Regions from separate parts of the Homo sapiens genome. Here region 2 is linked to region 1. Evidence: fine-mapped expression QTL. A gene starts in region 1. The other region holds a variant in brackets. All regions are shown on one strand. Distances are between the middles of the regions.

Evidence for each region. PIP is the estimated chance that this variant, and not a neighbour inherited with it, causes the effect.
Region 2: its variant is the best candidate, but not a certain one, in a credible set for the expression of RNF11 in whole blood (INTERVAL, PIP 0.71).

The regions. Positions count from the first base shown.
Region 1 is chr1:51,232,966-51,241,303 of GRCh38, forward strand. It overlaps RNF11 (ring finger protein 11), which reads left to right and starts at 3,308. Exons shown (of 3, transcript NM_014372.5): 1 at 3,308-3,914. The coding sequence starts at 3,792. It overlaps LINC01562 (long intergenic non-protein coding RNA 1562), which reads right to left and starts at 2,131. Exons shown (of 2, transcript NR_147076.1): 1 at 2,000-2,131. RefSeq lists a silencer at 3,093-3,572.
Region 2 is chr1:51,120,093-51,128,430 of GRCh38, forward strand. The region is part of intron 3 of C1orf185 (chromosome 1 open reading frame 185); the gene reads left to right. Among named protein-coding and RNA genes, the nearest start is that of C1orf185, 22 kb to the left of the region's middle. The variant T/C (reference allele first, on the strand shown) is at 3,854.

The sequences.
Region 1 (8,338 bases):
AACAACTAGCCTTGTTTGTTTGTTTGTTTACTGAGACGGAGTCTCACTCTGTTATCCAGGCTGGAGTGCAATGGCGTGATCTCGGCTCACTGCAACCTCCGCCTCTCAGGTTCAAGTGATTCTCCTGCCTCAGCCTCCTGAGGAGCTGGGATTACAGGTGCATGCCACCATGCCCGGCTAATTTTTGTATTTTTAGTAGAGATGGGGTTTCGCCACATTGGCCAGGCTGGTTTTGAACTCCTGACCTCGTGATCCACCCGCCTCGGCCTCCCAAAGTGCTGAGATTACAGGCGTAAGCCACTGCACCCAGCCCAAGCTAGTTTTAAACTTAACAATATAACTTATTTTCACAAGGCACTATAGAACTTTTCAAGGGCTTGTGTCAGTGTTACCCACCTGTGGAAAAAAAGAATGAAAAACAAAACTTAAAAAAATAAATCTGGCCTGGCGAGCTGGCTCACGCCTATAATCCCAGCACTTTGAGAGGCCAAGGTGGGTGGATCACCTGAGGTCAGGAGTTCGAGACCAGCCTGGCCAACATAGTGAAACCCCGTCTTTACTAAAAATACAAAAAATTAGTTGGGCGTGGTGGTGCGCGCCTGTAATCCCAGCTATTCAGGAGGCTGAGGCAGGAGAATTGCTTGAACCGGGGAAGTAGAGGTTGCGGTAAGCCAAGATCGCACCATTGCACTCTAGCCTGGGCAACACAAGCAAAACTCTGTCTCAAAAAATAAAAATTAAAAAAAATTAAAACTAACTAAATAAATCTATGTCTGGCCAGGCATACAGTGGCTCACACCTGTAATTCCAGCACTTTGGGAGGCTGAGGCGGGAGGATCGCTTGCGCCCAGGAGTTTGAGACCAGCCTGGGCAACATGGCAAGACTTCGTCTCTACCAAAAACAAAAACAAATGCAAGGCATGGTGGTGTGCATCTGTAGTTCTAGTTACTGGAGAGGCCTGAAGCAGGAGGATCACCTGAGCCCAGGAGGTTGAAGCTGCAGTGAGCCTCGATCAAGCCAGCCTGGGTGACAGAGTGAGACCCTGTCTCCAAAACAAACAAACAATGTCTACAAATTCTAGCACTGTGTAAATATTATGTCAAATAATTGTATAAATTATTATTAATAAAAATTTCTTTAGGTTTGACAATAATTTGTGGGGTAAATTTTCTCACTTTGTAAAAATTCCAGGGTACCTCTGATTTCTGGTAAATTTAGCCAATCATAAATTAAATGAGTTCTTGGAAGCTCAACAATTCCAAAACCAAAATTGTGAGTCAGTTTGTTCTTTCTTTCCTTCTTTCCTTTCTTTTTCTTTTTCTTTCTTTCTTTCTTTCTTTCTTTTCTTTCTTTCTTTCTTTTCTTTCTCTTTTCTCTTTCTCTTTCTCTCCCTTCCTTCTTTCCTTCCTTCCTGCCTCCCTTCTCTCTCTCTCTCTTTCTCCTTCCTTTTTTTTTTGAGACTGAGTCTTACTCACTCCCTCGCCCACGCTAGAGTGCAGTGGCACAATCTGGGCTCACTGCGCTGCAACTTCCACCTCCCAGGTTCAAGCGGTTTTCCTGCCTCACCCTCCCGAGTAGCTGGGACTACAGGCGTGCACCAGCACACCTGGCTAGTTTTTGTATTTTTAGTAGAGATGGGGTTTCACCATGTTGGCCAGGCTACTCTCGAATCCCTGACCTCAAGTGATCCACCCGCCTTGACCTCCCAAATTGCTGGGATTACAGACGTAAGCCACCACGCCTGGCCCAAAATTATGAGTCTTTTCAAAAATTTTATATCAAAAAGGTGATATTTAATGTGGAATTTGAGTGCATTTAAATAAGATAGTGACTTCGTAGAATAGGGACTGCAGAGTAAGAGTGTTCAGACCCATTCGAGTTTAATATAGCCCTACCTCTAAGAATCCTTTCTGTTCCTCACTCAAATGAACTAATTGCTGTCTTTCAGTTCCTCTAAAAACCTTGGGGTCCGTGGCAGGGTGTGGGCTTAGGACTCACCTGATTACTTGTCTTCCCAGGTGGTCTCTGGGCTCTATCAGGAACAAGCCAGGTATGATCATCCTTTTCCCCAGTCCTTAGCGTGGGGTCTGGTATACACACGCACACACAACTTCAGTAAATGGTGAATGAAACGAAAGGCAGTCAAGATCCACCTGTTGAATGAACGTCTATCAGGAGCACTGTCATCCTTCTTGCTTCCTTCTTTTGCATATGTTGTTTGAGCTGCTCATTCAACCAAGGAGAGAGCATACTCTACCTTGGGCAGTGTGCCAGCCTTGCACAGAGGGACAGATGATTCAGCTTGATCAGGCTGTGACAGAGAAAAGCTCAGGGTCTGAGAGCACACAGGATGCGACTAACCCAGACTGGAGGGTCAGGAGAGTCTCCCCAGGGGAAATGAAGTTGCATCCAGAAGGATTCCTGAGAATAATGATTAGCCTGATGAGAAGCAGAAAGGTTGGGAGTGGAGGGAAGTGGGTTTCTGTGAGAGAAACAATATGGACAAAGGCCCCAGGCAGAGGCAATAGTATTCCAGATAACGAAAAGCATTTTAGAGAGTCTAGTTTAGAATTTGTGAAGGAGGTGACAATGCTGCTAATGAGATTGAAAGGGAGTCAGATTTGTAAACCATTTAAGGATTGTCTTAAGGACAGCCTTGAGGAGACACTGAAGGTTTTAACAGGAGAATGACATGATCCGATTTAAATTTTAAAAAGATAACTCTGTCAACTGTGCCAACAGTGAATTGGATGTGGGCAATGATGAACTCAGGAACAGCTGAGAGTCTATTGCAGAAGCCAAGGTGAGAGATGATGGTGGCTTGGACTTTGGTGCTGGGACTGGAAAGAAATGAACAATCTGATATACAACTGGAAGAATAATCTCTCTGGCTGTGATGTGGAAGGATAAGGACGTGATTGGACAGGCAGGGATGGTTCAGTAACGAGCTAGGACTTTATTGTGAAGGGATAAAGGGGAAGCTTTTAACATTTTAATCATGGGACTGATCCATTCCGATATGGGTTTATATAAATAGACCGCTTGGCGGAGGGTGGTGAGAAGACTGTCAGGCAGTGCACAGGTAAGAACTGAGCCCTAGACGGGGCAGGAGCAATGAATGTGGGGAGGCGCGGGAGACGGGAGATTGGTTTCGGAGCCAGGTACGGAGCCAAGCAGTCAGAGAGAAGCAAAAATTGACGCAGCACCGAGAACAGCTGCTAGTGGAGAGGGGGATGGGCGCCGCCGGAGCCGCCCTCGCCTCCTGGCGCCGGGGGCGGGACCAGAGCACGCACGGCGCGATGACGCAGTGCCCGAGCCGGCCTCGTTCTGGCTGCCGCCGTCTCGCTGAGGCGGAGTAGGATGAGGCCCGCGGCCGTGGCTCCGGCGTCGGCGGGGGCAGCAGCAGCTGAGGCAGCAGCTGAGGCAGCCGCGACGGCCGCGCCCCCCCCCGCTGACCTGGATTAGGCCCAGCAGCTCCGTGGCCGCCGCCGCCCCGCGGGGGGGCGGGGTGGGGAAGTGCTTCGTCTCCCCGCCCCCCCCCCCCCATCGCTGCCTCGCAGGAGGCGAACGCCGCGACCCCAGCGGAGCCCGCGGCCCAGCCTTGATCCCCCAACCCCGGGGGCTGGCATGAGCGGCCCCTCGGCGGCACCGTGGGGCGGTGGAGTCGCCTCCGCCTGATCCCCGGCCTGTCGCCCGACCCCACCTCGCCAACCGAGGCGGACCGCGGAGTGTGCGAACGACCCCACCGCTGCTTTCTCCTCCCCCAGATCACGCACCCCAGCTCCGGAAGATGGGGAACTGCCTCAAATCCCCCACCTCGGATGACATCTCCCTGCTTCACGAGTCTCAGTCCGACCGGGCTAGCTTTGGCGAGGGGACGGAGCCGGATCAGGAGCCGCCGCCGCCATATCAGGTAGGGGAGGGTGTGTGTTGGGGGGAGCGAGTAGAGGCAGCTCTGGCGGAGATTGAGGGGGCTTCGGGGCCGTCTCTGCCCCTGGCTTCGGCAAGGCCTGGCCTGGGCGGCATTGACCCCTTAGGGCTGGATCTGAGGGCATTTGCTCTCTGATCTCAGAGTAAGGTTGATTCTTCGCCTGCCCTCGGGCACCGTGTGGGGATGATACCCTCTGCCCTTGAGTTCTGGGATCAGAGTATGTGATCACATCCCCTTGGCCAGTGTCTGGTGGTTCGCTTGTGGAGTTTGGGAGTGACATTTTCCTGTCTTTATGTCTGAATCGTATGATTTCCTCATCGCACCGCCAACTGGATTATGGGTTCTGGATAGGTGGTTGCCAAGCACCACCCCCCCGCCCCATTTATGTTTTCATGTGTGGTCGTCCTCTTACCCACCTCCCTCGTCTTTTTGTTAATTGGATCTGGCAGGTTTTCCCTCTGCTTGGGAGACGGATCTCCAAGTGGTGATTTTAACCCTAGCGACATCGAGTTACTTGTGTGTGTGTGTATATATATATATATGTGTATATATATATATATATATATGTATATAAATTTTAATCCCTCCTCTTTTTGCTCCACCCATATGACACACCTTTTAAACGTGCTGACTTAAGAAAACTTGATTAGCTTGAACTTTGGAAACCTTTAAACCTGGCTTGGGAAATTCCTTCGGTTACTCGTGTTCTCCCTTTGTATCAAAGACTCTCCTAAATACGTTGTACTGCTTTTTGTACAATAATCAGTAGTCCCAGATGTGTTGCAGAATTCGAGTGAAGACCTCTTAAACTCAAAATAGGTATGTGGATGTTATAATCCACAATAGATGTGTGAAAACCTTTCCTGTACTTTTTCCATTTTAGATGATATTGAATACACCCTTTTCCAGAGGGCTTCAATAGTAGTAGTGCTTAATTTCTTCCTGAAGAGTTTAGTTTTCTGACTGGGTAGGCTCCTTTGTTGTTTCATGTGATGACATCATTATCTAGTGTTTTCTTTTCTCATTCCTGTGTAAACCAATGTCTCATCACACCAGAAAAACCTGATCATATATATGCTCGTTTTCTGAATAAAATTCTTCTGGGGGCATTTCATATATACCAGTAAGGTCCAGTCTTGATTGTGGTATTACAGAAGCCTCCATGACTTCTCCCTCTTACGTTCTATATTCCAGGCCTACCAAATACACCAGGCTGTTCACAGCTTTGTTTTGCTCCAGTTCCTCTCTGCTTGGAGCCCTTCGCCCGGGTCAGCCAGGTGGACATCTAATCCTCTTTGAGAACTCAGCTTTCATGTCTGAAGTCCCAGCATTCCCTTCCTTCCCAGCCCGAATCCCTTGTGTCCCCACTGAAACCTCTACACTTCCATAAGCAATATCTATAACACTTTAGTGTTGTATCTTTGTTAGATGTGTGTCTCATCCTTGTAATCGCCTCCTTCAGTGCAAGCTGCGTGAAGGTAGAGAATCTGTGTTTCCGGTTTGCTGTTGTATCCCTCGCATCTGCCTCAGTAGGGACTCAGTAACTGGGAGATAAATTACGAGTAAAAGCCCTTGAGAACAGGGACTCTCCCCTCGCTCAGTTTCTGGCACATAAGCACCTAAATGCTGAATTAATTAATGAAGTTGAATTTAGTATTTTCTGTATTTACACAAATATTTTTTCCAAAGTAAGTTGTCACAGGGTAGTCTCTTAAAAATCAAAGCTGAATCTGGGTGTCTTTACAAGTACCTTTGAGTGAAGCAAGCAAGCTATGTTTATCCTTCACTGTCTTTCCCTCCTATGTTTACTATACAACAAAAGTGCTTATTTAACTTTTTTTTTTTAATGAGATGGAGTCTCGCTCTGTCACCCCGGCTGGAGTGCAGTGGCACAATCTCACTGCTTACTGCAACCTCCACCTCCCGGGTTCTAGCGATTCTCCTGCCTCAGCCTCCTGAGTAGCTGGGATTACAGGCGCGTGCCACCACACCTAGCTAATTTTTGTATTTTTAGTAAAGACGGGGTTTCACCATGTTGGTCAGGCTGGTCTTGAACTCCTGACCTCAAGCAGTCCACCCACCTCAGTCTCCCAAAGTGCTAGGATTACAGGCATGAGCCACCGCATCTGGCATGAAGTTTTTATTTTAAAATCTCTTATGCTCCCTACCCTCACCCCCTTCTATTTTTAAAAAAATAGAGACAGGGACTCCTATGTTGCCTAGGCTGGTCTTGAACTCCTGGCCTCAAGCAAATTCTCCTGCCTCCTATCCCCTTTCTTAATTGAATATCTTTGACTTGTTCTCTTTCTCCTATCCTTATGATAATTGTACTATTAAAGGTACTAGAATTTATGGAAACTGTGTTTGCCTTTTCCAGAAGAACTAGGTGATGATGAGGGATGAGGGGTTTTTGGTGTCATGAAGGAACTTTTTTTGGAAATGTTATATTTTTGACAGTGGGAGTTTTTTATGGTTGCAGTTTCCTGAAGTGAATGACGCAGACTAATATACAAATTCAGTATCAATCAGAAGAAAATTACTTTAAAACATGGGAGCATAAAAAGAAACTTTTGGAGAAAAAGTATTGTCCCCCACCCCCAAAGAAATAAGATCTGTCTTAGGAATGGTTATTTTAGATGATCTGAGAAACAGCAATCCAAGGTTATTTATTCATTTATTTGAGTTGAGAATCTCCCTCTGTCATCCAGGTTAGACTGGATTGCTCACTTGGCAGCCTCAAACTCCTGGCTTCAGGTGATCCTCCTCCCTCAGCCTCCCAAAGACTGGGATTACAGGCGTTAGCTACCTCACACAGCAGATTTATAGTATTCTCAGTTGATAAAAGTAACTTTTTCAACAAATTATATGTAATTAACAGTGAATAGCTGATTGTAAAGGAACATGTTCTCTTGAGGTGAGTAGTTAAAAGATGTCATTGTTTGCTGCTTTATATGTACAATGTACATATAATGACAAGAGCCAGTTACAGTTATTTCCTATTAACATCTGACAAATTTGTTTTTATTTATTTTTGCCTTAAAGTAAATCCCTGCACCATTATGATCCAAGTTTGTAGGAAGTGTATATTTCTTTCCATGGTTTCTTTTGTAGCCTCCTAACAGTTATCCCTGCTTTCACCCTTGTCCTCGCTAAGGCCTGTCCTCAATACAACAGCCACAGTTATTTTGGTAAAACTGAGCATGACAGTCTCCCCAACCCTCTGTGTGGATCCTTGTTTCATTCAAAGTAAAAATCAGATTCCTTATAGTGTCGCATAAACCCTACATAATCTGTACCCCTTGTTTCCACGCATGTCCCTTGACACCTACAGCTAACCCCTTTGTTGGCTTCCCTCCAGCTTCCCTGTCCTCATTGCTATTCTAGGACCTTTGTCCTCCTTATTCTGGAATACTCTTCCCCAGATTTCATGGCTGACTGACTCCCTTACCTCCTTCAAGTCTTTTCTCACTGCCCCCTTAAACCTTCTCTGACCACCCTGTTTGAAAGTGCAACCTGCCCTAATAACCTGGAAGTCCCTCTCACCCTGTTGTTTTCCCCCCCAATACCATTTATTACATTCCAACATGTGTTAGAAAGTTGCGTTGTCTATTACCTGTCTTCTCCCACTAGGTAGAAAGGAGGAAAGGGGATTTTTTTTTTTAATTGGTGTTTCCTAAGTACTTATAACAGTGCCTGGCACATGTTAGGCATTCAGTAATTTGGTTGAACGAATGAATAGATTTCTTTTAAATGAACTAATGTATTTGAGGCAGGTATAGTTGCACTGCTTACAAGAACTCTGCATATTCCTAGTGCCATTTTTGCTTCTATATTGTAGATCAGGTTTTTTTTTGTTTGTTTTTTTGTTTTGTGACTGGGCCTCCCTGTGTTACCCAGGCTGGTCTCTCTCTGTATATATATGTTTGGGTTTTTTTGTTTTCTCTTTTTTGAGACCAAGTCTCACCTTGTTGCCCAGCTAGAGTGCAGTGGTGTCATCTTGGCTCTGCCTCTTGGGTTCAAGCGATTCTCCTGCCTCAGCCTCTGGAGTAGTTGGTACTACAGGCATGCGCCACCAAGGCCAACTGATTTTTGTACTTTTGGTAGAGATGGAGTTTTGCCATGTTGACCAGGCTGGTCTCAAACTCCTGACTTCAGGTGATCTGCCCACCTTGGCCTTCCAGAGTGCTGGGATTACAGGCGTAAGCCCCTGAGCCTGCCCTTTATATTTTTTAAATTTAAAAAATAGAGACAGGGTCTCATTATGTTGCTAGTCTCAAACTCCTGGGCTCAAGGGATACTCCTGCCTCAGCCTCTTGAGTAGCTAGGGTTACAGGTGCACTTCTACTCTGCCTGGCTCAGGTTTTAAAAAAAATTTATTTCCTTTAGAGATGAGGTCTTGCTGTGTT
Region 2 (8,338 bases), 110 kb before region 1:
CAAAGGCTTGTGGCTATGAAAGGAAGCAATATATTCAGTAAAAATGTTATAATGTTCGGAGCCTAGGATTCAGAAGACAGTGGTGGAAAAAGACGCTGGGGATGAGATTGCGATGAGCCTCATTTGCACCCTAAGGATTTTGAAGTTTACCCCTTAGGCCGCACAGAACCACTGAAGGATTATAGTAATATGGTCAAGAGCATTGTCTGTAGAGCCAGATTACAGATTTCAATTCTGACTGTACCACCAATAGCTGTATAATGTTAGGCAAGTTACTTAACTTCTCTGTGTCTCAGTTTCCTCATCTGCAAAATAAGGATAATTTCACCTCCGTAGAGTTGTTGTGGGATTAAAGGAATTATGTGAAAAAGCACTCAGAATAGTGCCTGATCCTGTAGTGAGCACCGTACAATTCTACTATTATTTTTACTGGAAGATTTTAAGCATGTGGATGTAAACATCAAATTGATTCTAAAGGTTATTTCCTCTGACTTTCGAATGAAGGACAGTTTGAAATAGAGATTGCATTGCAGAGAAAAATTGTTTCTATGTATGCATTTAATATTAATTTATTCAGTACCCATCACGTACTAGGCATTTTGCTAGGTACTAATGATATAATAATACCATCATACTTAACGATGTATAGACACTAATAGACAATTACAAAAGTGTCATGAGTGCAATTTTGATTAGGTTGTTTATTATTCATTCAACAAATATGTAAGAAGTGCTTATATGCCAGGCATTGTATTAGGTCACTGGGAATTTGGAGATGACCAAGGGAGATAATAGCCCCTGCTTTTATGAAATTTTTAGTGTAGTGGGAGAGAGAAATAATGCACAAGTAAACACAAAAGATAATTCAGGATTCTTTTATTTATTTTTTAATTGACAAAAATTGTATATATTTATCATGTACAACATGATGTTTTGAAATATGTGTACTTTGTGGAATGGCTAAATAATGTTAGTTAACACGTGTGTTATCTCACATACTTGTCATTTTTTGTGGTGAGAACGCTTAAAATCTACTCTCTTAGTGATTTTCAACAATACAATACATTGTTATTAACTATAATCACCGTGTTGTACAATAGATTCCTTGAATCTATTCCTCTTATCTAACTGAAATTTTGTATCCTTTGACCAACATCTCCTCTGTCACCCTGCCACCCCCAGCCCCTGGTATCCTGCCATCCCAGCCCACCATTCTACTGTCTGCTTCTACGAGTTCAACTTTTTTAGATTCCACATTTGAGTGAAATCATGGGTATTTGTCTTTCTGTGCCTGGTTTCTTTCACTTAATATAATGTCCTCCAGGTTCACCCTGGTTGTCACAAATGACAAAGTTTCCTTCTTTTTTAAGGCTGTTATTCAGGATCCTTGATATTCAGTGACAGGAACCTCATTCAAACTAGAATAAGAAAAAAAATAGTATAAAAAGTTTAAGGTAGTGCTAACCTCAGCCAATTTCAGTACAAAAGAACTCTTTTGTATTGTCCCTGTTTTTCTTATCTCAATTTCTGCCTCTGTATTGGCTTCTTCCTCTTCTACTACAGGCAGACCTCTATGGGGCAGGAGGATAAAATGATAATAAAAATAGGTTTAATATAATAAAAAACTAGAGAATGATTTCTAACAAAAACTTTTATTGTGAAATATGACATACATACAGAAGAATACATATACACATACACATGAAATTTAAATAATAAATGGATTTTTTATACTCACTACCCAGAATAAAAATAGAATGTTACCAGTACCTTTGAGATATTCTGAGTCTTATATATCTGTCACACCTCCAACTCCCACCCTCCACTAAAGGAACCACTATCCTGTAATTACAGCTAATCATTTCCTTACTTTTCCTTATAGTTTTGCCATAAATGTTATAGAATAATATATTATTAAATTTCATGTGTTTTAGACTCCATATCTAATCTTTCCTTTTTTGTGCAGTATTGCATTTCTGAAATTCCTCCAGTTGATGTATGTAGCCATAGTTCATTGCTTTTACTGTTATCTGGTATTCCATTGTGTGAAAATATCAAATTTTCTGTGGTTTACATTAAGTTTGGAGTGGTTTTCAGCTGTTTCTCTATGAAATCTTTATAGAGGCTATACCTAAGAGTAGAATTGCTGCATTATAGGGTAAGTGCATATTCAACCTTATTAAATAATTCCAAATTGTTTTCCAAAGTAGCTGTGTCAATATATGTTCCCCCAACATATATATAAGTGCACAGATTACTTCATATCTTCAACAATCTTGGCATTTTCAGGCTTCTAAATTTCTGACAACCTAATGGATGTGTAACAGTATCTATAGTCTTCCTACCTAATTTTCTTCAAGCCATTGTAGATTCATAGCAAAACTGAGCAGAAAGTACAGAGTCCCACTATATTCTTTCCCCCACACAGGCACAGCCTCCCCAACTATCCACATCCTACACCAGAGAGGTGCATATGCTACTATTGATGAACCCACATTGACACATAATAATCCAAAATTCATAGTTTACAATAATGTTCACTTTTGGTATTATGTAGTCTATGGGTTTTGACAAATGTGCAATCATGTCATTACAGTATCATACAGAATGGTTTCATTATCCTAAAAGTCCTCTGTGCTTCTCTGATTTATCCCTCCCTCTGCTCTAACCCCTGGCAACCCCTGATCCTTTTACTGTTTCCAAAGTTTTTGCCTTTTCCAGAATAGGCACATTTGTCATATAGTTGGAATCACACAATATGTAGTCTTTTCAGATTGGCTTCTTTCACTTAGCAATGTGCATTTAAGCTTTCTCCATGTATTTTCATGGCTCGATGGCCTGTCTTAGTCTGTTTTCTGTTGCTCATACCAGAATACCTGAAACTGGGTAATTTATTAAAAACGAAATGTATTTCTTACAGTCTGGAGTTCGGAAGTCTAAGGTCAAGGAGGGGCACATCTGGTGAAAGCCTTCTTTCTGGTAGGATTTCTGCAAAGTCCTGGGGTGGCATAGGGCATCACATGGTGAAGGGGCTGAGTGTGCTAGTTCAAGTCTCTTGTCTTCTTAGAAAGCCACTAGTCCCACTCCTGTGATAACCCATTAATCTATTAATCCATTAAGCCATTAATGGATTAATCTATTTATGACCCAATCACTTCTTAAAGGCCCCACCTTCTGAATACTGCCACATTGTGGATTAAGTGTGGATTAAGTTTCAACATGAGTTTTGGAGGGACAAATATTGAAACTATAGCCTAGCCTATTTCTTTTTAGCACGGAATAATGTTCCATTGTATACCATAGTTTATTTATCCATTCACCTATGGAAGGACATTTTGGTTTTTTCCAAGTTTTGGCAATTATGAATAAAGTTGCTATAAACATATGTGTGGAGGTTTTTGTATAAACATAAATTTTCAACTTATTTGCATGAATACCAGCGAACACAATTATGGGATCTTATGGTATGAGTGTGTGTAGTTTAATAAGAAAGTGCCAATTTTTCTTCCAAAGTATATCACTCTGCATTTCCACCCGCAATGCATGAGAGTTCCTGTTGTTCCCCATTCTCACCAGCATTTGTTGTTGTCAGTGTTTTGGAGTTTCACCATTCTAACAAATGTGTAGTGGTATCTCATTTTAATTTGCAATTCCCTAGTAACATGTGATGTTGAACACCTTTTCATGTGCTTATTTGCTATCTATCTTCTTCGATGAGGTGTCTGTTCGATCTTTCATTCATTTTTAATTAGGTTATTGATTTTCTTATTGCTGAGTTTTAAAGAATGTAAGTTTTAAAGAACTTATATATAACAAGTTTAAAATATATATTTTATACACACATGTATATATA[T/C]ACACACACACACACACACACATTATATATATATATAGAGAGAGAGAGCGAGCAATAATCCTTTATCAGATATGTACTTTGCAAATATTTTTTCCCAGCCCATGGCTTGTATCTCTTGGTATTTCACTGTAGTTTGTTTTTTTTTTTTTTTTTTTTGAGACAGTCTCGCACTGTTGCCCAGGCTGGAGTGCAGTGGCGTGATCTCGGCTTGCTGCAAGCTTCGCCTCCTGGGTTCACGCCATTCTCCTGCCTCAGCCTCCCAAGTTGCTGGGACTACAGGCGCCCGCCACCATGCCCGGCTAATTTTTGTATTTTTAGTGGAGACAGGGTTTCGCCATGTTGGCCAGCCTGGTCTTGAACTCCTGGCCTCAAGTGATCCGCCCACCTTGGCCTTCCAAAGTGCTGGGATTATAGGCGTGAGCCACTGTACCTGGCCTCTTTGCACTATTTTTAAGGTGTGTTTTTGTTGCAGGGCAGCCGCCTCAAAACTGGGGTTTAGCCTAGGAGAAAGCCAGGAAAGAATTCAAGGGCAAGCTGGTGGTGTTGGACAGCAATCTTTTGTTGAACATTACTGCTCTTTGCAGATCAGGGCTAATTCATAGGCAGCACATCCAGAGACAGCAACCTATGGGCTCTTATCAACTGTGATTATACTCAGTAAACCCACATTCAATTACATGCAAATTAAGGAGTGGATCAATGCAAATGGAGGAATGGATTACTTAGAACTTTCTAGGAAAGGGGCAGTAATATCTGAGTCATTGCCATGGAAAGTGGTCATAACTTCTGGGTCACTGCCATGACACTGGTGATAGTGTCTTGTATTAATGAGCAATGAAGGCAGCTAGGGATCACTTTTGTCACCATCTGCTGGTTCCTATGGGTTTCTTCACTTTATTCTGTCTGGACAAGATCCTGTTTTGGTCAGCAGGGTTGTGACCAGAAAACAAGTCCTGCTGGCTTCCTAACCTCATTCCCCACCTCAGAGATTACTCTTCCTTAATCTTAAAGGGTCTGTGGAAGGGCAGAGGCCCATCTTCTGTAACTGCTTCTTGCTCATTTTATGGGTATAGGCCCTGCCTAGCATTGGAGGAGTAAAAATCTCTGGATACCTTACCCAAAGGGCCCAACGGGAAGGTGTTTTTGTTTTCAGGGTCAAAAGATGGGATGCGGTTGGAAGCCTTGTGCCAGCATCATCTTCATGTGTAATCTAGAAAGTATAAACTTTACTAGAAGGTTAAACAAGAAAAGGAATTAGAAGGAAGAGAAAAATTAATGCTCCAATGCCCACCCACAGCATCACATTATCTATTTATGCATTTGTGAAATAATAGCTTTCAGTCTTTTAGGGGGTTATAAACATAAGTCTGGTATCCTCCTCTTAGGCTTGTGAGGACTTATAAGAAACAGGCTTAATCCTGGACATATATCCAGCTAGTGATTCCCTTGAAGTTTAATAGCAGTAGGGTTTTTAGTTTTAAGTTTTTAGTAACACTAAGTCTTCCAGGAGGAGGCAATACTTTATTTCTATATTCTTGAAGGGCCTTGTAAACCTATCCTAAATTATAAAGGGGGCATAGTGCTGGATTGTAGGAATGAGTCACCATGCCCAGCTGTAATTAACTTTATAGAAGCCTTGCACATCTTATTTTGTTACCAAGCAATGAGCATTCTGTCTGACATGCATAGAAACCAATACTATGGCACCAGCTTTTTAGAAAAGAAAAAGCTTCATTGTAAGGTCAACTGGGCAAGGAGTTAGAAGGCAATGCTCAAATATGTCACCCTGAGCTGGAGTCTGGGAGCAGATTTGAAAGACAGAGAGTAACTATGAAGGAGATAGAAAAATGTAACTAGGCATGATCTGATTGGGTCCCAAAGAGGAGGTGCCAGGTCATTGGGTTTTAAATTTGTACTTCAGCAAAACAGGAGCTAGGTGCGGTGGCTCATACTTGTAATCCCAGCACTTTGGGTTGCTGAGGTGGGTGGATTGCTTGAGCTCAGGAGTTCAAGACCAGCCTGGGCAGCATAGCGAGACCCCAGCTCTAAAAACAAAAAACAAAAACAGGGAACCCCCTCACTTCTTAATTGGGTCCCTGTTCCTCAACTCAAGTTACTTAGGTTCTGCACGTGGTTAATTTTTCCATTCTGGTCAGCTCTGGGTCACATATCAGGCATGATTGGTTCATCTGGACATGCTCAAGTGTGACTTGCAACCTGGGGGCCCACTGCAACTGAGAAACTCAGTATTTTGTTACAATTGCTACTGACAAAGTATAACCAGAGTGAACTGGTTCTATAATTACATTGTTAGTTTTTATTACTGGAATTTTTTTGAGACAGGGTCTTGCTCCGTTGCCCAGGCTGGAGTGCAGTGGCAAAATCATAGGTCACTGTAACCTTGAACTCCTGGACTCAAAGGATCCTCCTACCTCAGCCTCCTGAGTAGCTGGAACTACAGGTACACACCACCATGTCCACTTTAAAAAAAAAATTGTAGAGATAGAGTCTTGCTGTGTTGCCGAGGCTAATCTCGAACTCCTGGGCTCAAGTGAGCCTCCTGCCTCAGCCTCCCAATGTGCTTATTACAGGTATGAGCCACTGCACCCAACTCGTATTACTGAAAAATGTATATGTTTGTGCTTTTGTGAAATGATTTTAAGTAACCTTTTAATTTTAGAATAATCTATGATTTATAGAACAGTCATGAAGATAATATAAAATTTTCCTATACCCTTCACCCAGTTTTCCTCCAGTGCTAAAATCTTAAGTTACCATAGTATATTTGTCAAAACTAAGAAACCAACACTGGTACATTATTATTAACTAAACTCCAGATGTTATTTAGATTTCGCCAGTTTTTAAGTGAATGTACTTTTGCTATTTCAGGACCTAATCCAGGATCCTACATTGCATTTGTTTCTTTAATTTCCTCTGCTCTGTAACTGTATCTCCATCTTTCTTGTTTAACCTAACCTTTACAGTTTTGAGGAGTGCTGGTCATGTTTGTAAAATGTCCCTCAATTGGGGTTTGTTTATTTTTTTTTTCATTATTTATAACTTGGGTTATGTATTTTGGGGAAGAATACCACTGAAGTGAAATTAATGTGATTTAAAAAATATTTTATTGATACAATTTTTAAAATATTTTGAGATTAATTACCTACAATAGAATGCAAAGAATTTAGATATTCCACTTAATGAACATTGACAGCTGTATATACATTCAACCAACACCTAAAACAAACTACAGAACATTTTTATCACCTAAGAAAATTCTCTCATGTCTGCTTTCTAGTCAATTCCTCTACCCATCCCAGGTATCAGCTTTCTGATTTTTTGTCATTTTTTTTTTTGTGTGAGATGGAGTTTCGCTCTTGTCGCCCAAGCTGGAGTGCAATGATGCAATCTCAGCTCACTGCAACCTCCGCCTCCTGGGTTCAAGCGATTCTCCTGCCTCAGCCCCGGAATAGCTGGGACTACAGACGCATGCCACCAAGCCCAGCTAATTTTGTATTTTTAGTAGGACAGGGTTTCACCATGTTGGCCAGGCTAGTCTCGAGCTCCTGACCTCAGGTGATCCACCTGCCTTGGCCTTCCAAAGTGCTGGGGTTACAGGTGTGAGCCACTGCGCCCAGCAGCTTTCTGATTTCTGACAAGGTTTAGTTTTTATCTGTTCCTAAATTATATATAAATTAAATTATATCTTTTATGTCTGATTACTCTCACTTAATAAAAGTTTTGGGGCTCACCCATGTTATTGTGTGTGTTAGAACTTTGTTCTTTCTATTGATAAGTGGTAGTCCATTATAGGAACATTTTATGCATTCTCTTGTTGACGGATATTGGGTTGTTTTTAGTTTTTGACTACTATGAATAAGGCTACTCTAAACAACCACATACTTTTAGTGAACATATATTCTCATTTTTCTTTTCTTTGTTTTTTTTTTTTTTTTTTTTGAGATAGAGTCTCGCTCTGTCACCCAGGCTGGAATGCAATTGCGTGATCTCAGCTCACTGCAACCTGCACCTCCTGGGTTCAAGCGATTCTCCTGCCTCAGCCTCCCGAGTAGTTGGGACTATAGGCGCGTGCCACCACGCCCAGCTAACTTTTTGTATTTTTAGTAGAGATCAGGTTTCACCATGTTGACCAGGCTGGATTAGAACTTTTGACCTCCAGTGATCTACCCACCTTGGCCTCCCGAAGCACTGGGATTACAGGCGTGAGCCACCGCGCCCAGCCTGTATTTTCATTTTTCATGGGAAAGTACCTGAACCTGGAATTGTCAAGGCTTGGGGAGACATACATGTAAATTTATAAGAAACTGCTGAGCAGATTTCCAAAGTGATTGTAACTTATTTCACTCCCACCAGCAATAAGTGAGAGTTTCAATTTTCCATGGACTTGCCAACATATGGTGGTGTTATTAGTATTTTTAATTTTAGCTATTTTAGTGGGTGTAAAGCCAGGCACAGTGGCTCACT